Linked DNA regions of Homo sapiens: region 1 is linked to region 2. Evidence: fine-mapped QTL for protein levels in blood plasma. A gene starts in region 2. The other region holds a variant in brackets. All regions are shown on one strand. Distances are from middle to middle.

Evidence for each region. A credible set is the group of variants that fine-mapping cannot tell apart. PIP is the posterior inclusion probability: the model's chance that the variant is causal. The UK Biobank Pharma Proteomics Project read protein levels with antibody pairs (Olink). The fine-mapping took linkage between variants from a reference panel, not from the people measured, so its PIPs are less certain.
Region 1: its variant is the best candidate, but not a certain one, in a credible set for the plasma level of the VEGFD protein (UK Biobank, PIP 0.88).

Annotation. Positions count from the first base shown.
Region 1 is chrX:15,426,734-15,430,733 of GRCh38, reverse strand. The region is part of intron 5 of PIR (pirin); the gene reads left to right. The region is part of intron 4 of PIR-FIGF (PIR-FIGF readthrough); the gene reads left to right. Among named protein-coding and RNA genes, the nearest start is that of VEGFD, 44 kb to the right of the region's middle. The variant C/TC (reference allele first, on the strand shown) is at 1,523.
Region 2 is chrX:15,381,536-15,386,027 of GRCh38, reverse strand. VEGFD (vascular endothelial growth factor D) reads left to right here and starts at 1,615. Exons shown (of 7, transcript NM_004469.5): 1 at 1,615-2,171. The coding sequence starts at 2,082. PIR (pirin) reads left to right here. Exons shown (of 10, transcript NM_001018109.3): 10 at 912-1,229. The coding sequence ends at 1,024. All of the region lies in intron 9 of PIR-FIGF (PIR-FIGF readthrough), which reads left to right.

The DNA.
Region 1 (4,000 bases), 45 kb before region 2:
AAAGCAGAGGAAGGAAGCCAGCTTGACAAGGGTATCCTACCAAAAGCCAGGGTAAATGGGAAGTCTTTGAAGGACATAAGATGAAGGTAGTTGGAGTTTGGAAGGAAGTGGTTTTATAGACCTTGTTTTGTCTTGGTTGTTTTGTGGTCATTATTGGAGTGGTGTCTGAGACTCATTATGGGTTTGGTTCTGACATATTTATAGGGAAGGAGAGACAAGGTTTTCCTGGATTTGGTAGCAGCCCTGTTGTAGGTTAGCCAAAATGTACCCTTAATCTCTTATGAAGAATTGAATTACTTACCTTCTAGAAATATTCCCTGCATAATATTTGAACCATAATATTTTAAGCCATTAGGCTTTTGAAATATAGGCTAAAACTTTAAAGGAAAGTTTCCTAAATACTTTCAACACAGGATTGTGAAATGGAAAGAAAGACGAAAGGGGAAGAGCTTTGGATTTTAGTACCTCTGCAGGCATTATTAATCAGAACTGAAACAGAAAAAAAAGGAAAAAAAAACAAATTCACTAATAGAATTTGAGTGCATTAGCTCTGTGCATGCTGCAACGGATTTATAGGGGAATGTTTTCTTTTAGTTTCTTATGGACCAATTTGTTTGACTCTTGTGGAAATAGATTCATTGATAGCTAAGTTTTAACCAAAAAAGAATGATTTAATTAAATTATCATTCTATTTTGAGGTTCTATTAATAGTTTAATACTATACATAAAAATAAACAAAACAACACAGGAAACAATGTGCCTAATAGGAAGATTTCTTTATGGTTGAAAATCAGCAGGGTATGTAATGGAAAGATGGAATCCAGGTTTGCTCAAGGTACATTTGAGGCTGACATCATCACCTTTTTTTTTTTTCCCTTGAGACAGAGTCTCGCTCTTCCGCCCAGGCTGGAGTGCAGTGGCAGGATCTCGGCTCACTGCAAGCTCTGCCTCCCGGGTTCACGCCCTTCTACCGCCTCAGCCTCCCGAGTAGCTGGGACTACAGACGACCACCGCCACGCCCGGCTAATTTTTTGTATTTTTAATAGAGACGGGGTTTCACCGTGTTAGCCAGGATGATCTCTATCATCTGACCTCGTGATCCACCCACCTTGGCCTCTCAAAGTGCTGGGATTACAGGCGTGAGCCACCGCGCCCGGCCTCATTATAGATTATTTTAAATAGAATAATATACATTCAGTTTTGAAGGCTTTGGGGTAGTTTATTATTCAAGACATATGTTATATTGACACCCTCAATGATCCAGTTCCCAATATGAAAAGAATACTAGAATTGGAATCCTGTTTTAGGTTAAAGATGTTGTGAAAAACATCTGCAAAATGAATTAAAAATTTCCTCTTAGACTTTTTCACACTGTGAGACGATAGAATATATTTTGTGGCTTTATTAAAGTCTCTCATTGGTTTCTGTTTAAAATTTTTAAGATGAATACATAAATGAATATAGAACGTTCTGTGTGAGTGTGAATACACCTGCATGTGTGCTTGTGCCTGTGTAGTTGCAA[C/TC]TTAGAGAGGTAGCTACTATTTTTTGAACAATATGGATTAGGTTGAGAAGCAAGAGACAGGAAGGAAGAAGGAAAAAGAGCCAGCCAGGAGGGCAGACTGATGACTGAAGTTGAGGGCAAGAATACAGCGAGTTAACCAGAGCTTTCCCACCAACTCTCCACAGCTCTAGTTGCCCTCCCTCACCCCAGCCACATTCTCACTTCTCTTTAGCTCTAGTCTGAGAAATTGGAAGAGAATTTTAAAAATTAGAGTGTGGAGGAAAACATTACTTTTCTGAATCAGAATTTCAGAACCAGAAATAGACTTAAACAACAGCAAGTACCCTCACAAAATTTTCAGATGAGCGAATTAACCCAGAAGAAGATAAGTGTTTCGTTGGTCAGCAGAAAAAGCAATACCTCTAGCTGGGCACGGTGGCTCACACCTATAATCCCAGCACTTTGGGAAGCCGAGGCGGGCAGATGGCTTGAGCCCAGGAGTCCGAAACCAGCCTGGGCAACATGGCGAAATCCCATCTCTACAAGAAAATTTAAAAAAGAAAGAGAGAGAGAGACAGAGAGAAAGAAAGAAAGGTAAAGAAAGAAGAAAAGAAAAAGCAATACAGCATGAAAGACTCCTGACTTCCAGTTCAAGATTATTTTTATGGCCACATTCTGGGAGAGTGCTAGCAAAAATTAAAGCAAGAACCTCTTTGTGATGCATTTCTTCTCTGTTGGAAGGGATACTGCATCTGCCACTGAGGCAGAGGTTGAAAAAGATGCTTAAACCAAACAGGGATCTTTATCTGAAGGACAGCGAAATATTGCCTGAACAGAGGAGTCATTCGATATTATATGAAGTTTACCCTTAATCTTTTTAGAGGTAATTTTAGAAGTCCTCATCAGACAAAACCAGCCCCTTTCCAGATGGTGTCTTATACACCTAATGATCCTAGAGAATCAGATCCTGTGCCCCTTGTGTGCTGCCCTTCTTTTATGTGTGTTTCAAGCTCTCTGATTGATTGTGAATCTTTGGCCTCAGGTTGCACTTGATGTCACAGGTCTTTCTGGTTTCATTTATATATACACGGGGGAATTTGCTTTTCTAGTCTTTGAAGCTGTATTAATGCAGCTTGACCTTCTAAGCCATGCAAAAGTCTACCAGAGCATTTTAAACCCCAAAGCTTCAATTGGAGACATTCAGAGGAAAGGAAAAAAATCTTTTGATAGTCAAGATTACTCACGATTCTTTATTTCAAAATTTAATGTACAGACAATATATTTTGACCATACCAAATTCACCTGTCCTGAAGAGAAGCATTTTGCTACATGTAGGTGAAGATGTTGATGAATACCCCATATATATATATATGTATACATACACACACATATGCACACACACACACTTGTGTGTGTATATATGTATGTATATATGTATATAAAATCCCATGTATAGTAATACGGTTATTGACAGTATATGGAATAGTAATACAGTTATTGACGGTATATATATGTGTGTGTGTGTGTGTGTGTGTGTGTATGTACTGTCAGTACATATATTCATATATATCTTCATATATACATATATCTACTGTCAATAACTGTATTACTATACATGGAGTTTTCCATTATGAAACATCATTCAATAAATATTTATTGAACACCTAGCATTTGACAGACATAGTGGGTTGGCCCTGAGAATTCAGTAGTAACAAAGGCAGAAATGTTCATGTCCTCATGGAGCTTGCATCATTATTCTCCACAAAATTATGCCTTCATCAAGGAGAGTAAATAATTCTGGGCTCCAGATTCTCTCTTTTTGTCTAAAAATGCATGTATTTAATGAATGTAATCTTTTAATTAACATATAACATATACACAGAGAAGTACACAGATCAAGTATACAGCTCAAAGAATGTTTACCAAGTAAACACACTCATAAAAGCAGCAGCCAGGTTAAGAAACAGAACATTACCAGCCCCCAGAAGCCCCTTTAAAATCCTTTTCTACTTGCTAACCTTCCCAAGATAACTAATTTTGTGACTTCTGACATCATAAATTAATTTTGGCTTGTTTTGAACTTTGTAGAAATGGAATCATACGGTGTATGATCTTCTGTGTCTGTCTTCATTTGCTCAATATTATGCCTGTGAAATTCACCTGAGTTGTTGCATGTAGTTGAGTTCATTCATTCTCCTTGGTGTATAGTATTCCACTGTATATTACATTTCATTTATCCATTCTATTATTAAAGACATTTGGATGATTTCCAGTTTGGGGCTATTATCAGTTCTGTCACTATTAAGGTACTTGTGCCTGTCTTTAGGTGACTGTTAGGTATACACCTATGAGTTGGAATATTGGGTCATAGATTATGCATATATTCGTCTGTGCTACACATGGCCAAGCAGCTTCCCAAAGTGTTTATACCAAGTTATAGTCCCACCAGCAGTGTATGAAAATTACAGTTACTACACATCCGTGCCAAGCTTAAGGTTA
Region 2 (4,492 bases):
GATCATGGGGGTGAGACAGTCCAGTGCCTCTCTGCCCCTACAATATATGAAGAAAGGGGAAGAAACACACATTGCCTCCTGGTAGATTAGGGGAGGACTTCTTGTACATTTTTAGCAAAATCCGAGTTCAGACCCAGCAATTAGACAAAAGGGTCAGCAAACTATGGTCGATGGGCTACATCTGCCCACTGCATGTTTTTGTAAATGAAGTTTTATTGGGACACAGCCATACCTATTCACTTTTGCATTATCTATGGCTGCTTTTGCACTTTGATGAAAGAGTTGAGTAGTTGAGACAGACACTGTTTGACCCACAAAATCTAAAATACATACTATCTAGCCCTTCCTAGCAAACATTTGCCAACCCCTAGAAAACTTTTAAAAAATGATGCTCTTCGACTTGAAATTTTTATAATCTTCTGTTTATTGTCAATAGGTGCTGCTGATTTTCAAAAAATGACTTAGAATCCTCAAATAAGTATACAGCCTTATATGCTGCTTAGACACCAAAGCTATGATAAGATTTGTCAGTTCTTTGTATCAGATGGGTTCAATTCTTGACATCAGCTAATGTTATAAAAATAACTACAAAATTGGTTGTAATAGAACCAAATCTAAGACTCTTTTTAATAAAAAAGATCACCATTGCTGGTGAGAAACCTATACTGAATGGGTGAGATGCCATTGCATTTATCTGAAGTTTCGTCTTTATAATCAATAATCATATACAATCCTAGTCAAGAAACTCATCTTACAGTCCTTGGGGATTGAACACTGTGAAAATAAACTTTTACTCTTCGGATGTGCTTGGATTTTGTTTTAAATTAAGAACTACAGAAATATATATCATTTCTAGTGGTAGAGGAAAATATTGCCACCCAGAACTTTCTGAATGTCTCTTTCTGCCCTAGGTCCATTTGTGATGAACACCAATGAAGAGATTTCTCAAGCTATTCTTGATTTCAGAAACGCAAAAAATGGGTTTGAAAGGGCCAAAACCTGGAAATCAAAGATTGGGAACTAGTGGAAAGCGGAAGAGCAGGTCTTGATGTGTCCTAGAATTTTGCCATTTCTGAGATTGAGCCATTGAAGGCATTCCATTTCTAAAGCTTATTTAGCCGGTGCTTCTAAAGAATTCCACACTAACGTGATAACATGGTTTTTGTAACAATAAATGTAGGATATTTCCTGGCACATGCAAATAAACCTAATCATTGTTTCTTTAAAAATCAGTGTTTTTCATTTGAGATACCTAAGTTACTAAGCTTCTGTTTAAAAAGTCGTTTTGTGTATGTTTGCCTTTTTTTGCATGTATGGATGGATGTTTTTATTATTTTTGTGCATGTGCAGGTTTTAAAAATCATATTTGATTGCTTTCTGTGTGTCATTGGCAGCAGATGCATGAGCATCTGAGGTCCCTTCTTAAGCAATCCCACTGAGATACAAAGGTCAAAGCTATGTGCTGGGGTTTCATGTTACAGGTTATCTGCTTTAAAATAACGGCAGCCCTGAACATTTGAGTCAGTTCTTAAAACTGCCCTGCTATTGGTAGGGACGCAACAGGATTACAGCCAAGACTTCTCTGCATTTTCTGCCAAAATCTGTGTCAGATTTAAGACACATGCTTCTGCAAGCTTCCATGAAGGTTGTGCAAAAAAGTTTCAATCCAGAGTTGGGTTCCAGCTTTCTGTAGCTGTAAGCATTGGTGGCCACACCACCTCCTTACAAAGCAACTAGAACCTGCGGCATACATTGGAGAGATTTTTTTAATTTTCTGGACATGAAGTAAATTTAGAGTGCTTTCTAATTTCAGGTAGAAGACATGTCCACCTTCTGATTATTTTTGGAGAACATTTTGATTTTTTTCATCTCTCTCTCCCCACCCCTAAGATTGTGCAAAAAAAGCGTACCTTGCCTAATTGAAATAATTTCATTGGATTTTGATCAGAACTGATTATTTGGTTTTCTGTGTGAAGTTTTGAGGTTTCAAACTTTCCTTCTGGAGAATGCCTTTTGAAACAATTTTCTCTAGCTGCCTGATGTCAACTGCTTAGTAATCAGTGGATATTGAAATATTCAAAATGTACAGAGAGTGGGTAGTGGTGAATGTTTTCATGATGTTGTACGTCCAGCTGGTGCAGGGCTCCAGTAATGAACATGGACCAGTGAAGGTAGGTGAGCTCAATTTTTAATGTGATGAAGTTCTTTTTATTGGCTCATACAGAGGACTTTCTTTGCCCTCACTATTTTTGAAACAATATAAAAATGCAGAACCATCCTAGTAGTGGACTGGACAGGATATATCCTGCATTTCTTGGTGACTGTTCTGTTTCTTAGTCTTATTAAACTTCTGGCCATGAGTATTTGAAAATGCTGGGGTGGGGGTTGGTTGTTTTTTGAAGTTATGGTAGAACATGAGCAGTCTGGAATCTTTTTGGATGGAGAAGTTTCTCCTCGGTTGCATATGCAGATGGCACAGTGGTTTTTTAATGAAACATTGATTTGTTTTTATGACTGATAACTTTGTGGGCCATTTATTTTCAGGTCTTTGTGAGCAGCAGAGGTTAGTTTATTCGTTTGGTAAATTGAAAATTGCAGTGCTTTCTATGAACATTTTCTATCTGCTTTTGCAAATTACCAATTGCTGCCATCCAGAAAAATGTTTTCTCAGAGAGTGTTTGGTTTTTTCGCTTCTTGAAAGGTGTAAAATTCAACACTAATCAAATCTTTGGTTCTGTGAGCAAGCATCAAATAGAGCTTAACGAACAGAGAGTAATGCAAAAAATTAACCAGAATGTTGCTGACTGCTGGAACAATACTTAGCCCAATTTTATGCATTTCATGGATTATATATATTTTAAGCTTCTATTTTGAAAATGATTCGGATGTAATTGTTTTGACTGAAGTGGTGCTAAATCATTATTGATTTAGGAACTTCTGGCCTTGAAAAGACAATTAAATGTGAGTTTGAGTTTTTGTAGCTGTTGTTTAGGACGTGCATTTTCAACAGGGGTGATATCGCCCCCAGCAGGGGAAAATTGGTTCGTGGAGGGATGAAAAAGTTTTACCCTTTTGATACATCACGCACAGACGTACATACAGTACATATGGTATGTAGTTTAAAATACGTTATACATTCAAATTGCATAGGGGGAAAGTGTCTTCAAAGGCTCCTGGCTGGTGTTGGTGGCCTGGCGAGGGTGGGGGCTGATATTTAAAAATGTTGAACACTGAGCTGGAGGTGAGTGGGAAGTCACCTTGTCTGGCAGCCAGCACTTTTCTAACTTCTCAAATTCCAAATTTACATGGGAGAAATCACAGTGTTTGGCTCCATTTTACTGCCACCAGCCTTGATATTGGATCTCAAGGCCAGATTGTAGGTAAATGGGAATCTGACTGTAAGCATAGGTAACAGGAGAAAACGGTCTGACTTGTTTGAAGCAAGTAAGACTTTTCCGACTGTCCAGCTTTTTCGTAAGTTCATGAAACAGAAATCCTTTAGATGTGCTGGGCTCCTCGAGTTTTAAAATATTTCCATTTTCCTTGTAAAACATCACTTTATCTGATGGTATAATAAAGGAGACTGAATTGTTGGACATAAGTCATATTCTTTAGGTTGCTCAGCTCTTTCAAAGAGCACAAGCACCAAGAATGTCTCAGGTGTCCTGGGCACTGTGAAGTTTTATTTATTTATTTATTTATTTATTTGAGACGGAGTCTCACTCTGTCACCCAGGCTGGAGTGTAGTGATGCAATCTCAGCTCGCTGCAACCTCTGCCTCCCGGGTTCAAGTGATTCCCCTGCCTCAGCCTCTCGAGTAGCTGGAATTATAGGCACGTGCCACCATGCCGGGCTAATTTTTTGTATTTTTAGTAGAGACAGGGTTTCACTGTGTTAGCCAGGATGGTCTCGATCTCCTGACCTGATGATCTGCCCGCCTTGGCCTCCCATAGTGCTGGGATTACAGGCGTGAGCCACCGCGCCCGGCTGGCACTGTGAAGTTTTAAATGCTTTGAATGTACTGTTAATATATAAATTTGTTGAATGGAGTAACGAAGGAAAGCAGCTGAATTTGCATGTGACAGAAAACAAGTTGTTACACGTGGAGGATGCAGCATTATATACTTACTAATACGATTAGCAATTTTTTTTCAGAATATATCAGAATTTCCTTTAAAAAGTGAAGCTACATATACTGAACTTATATCCACCCTACCCCTCGCTCAATTAAATTATTTCTGATATGAAGGAAAGGATTGCCTATAGCTAAACAGAAGTTTTGGCATAGATATGACTGAGTGGTAAGGGATAATGAGATATATAATATTGGTTATAGTTTTCTTTTTTCCCCAACTTTTAAGAAAAGAAAATCTAAGAGGAAATAATGTTTCTAAATGTTAAAGTTCTTCTTGTTAAAATTAAAATGTAGTGTGAAAACATATTCATGGTGGTAATGGTTTAGGGTGGTGGTATTTGAATTTTTTGTTTTTTT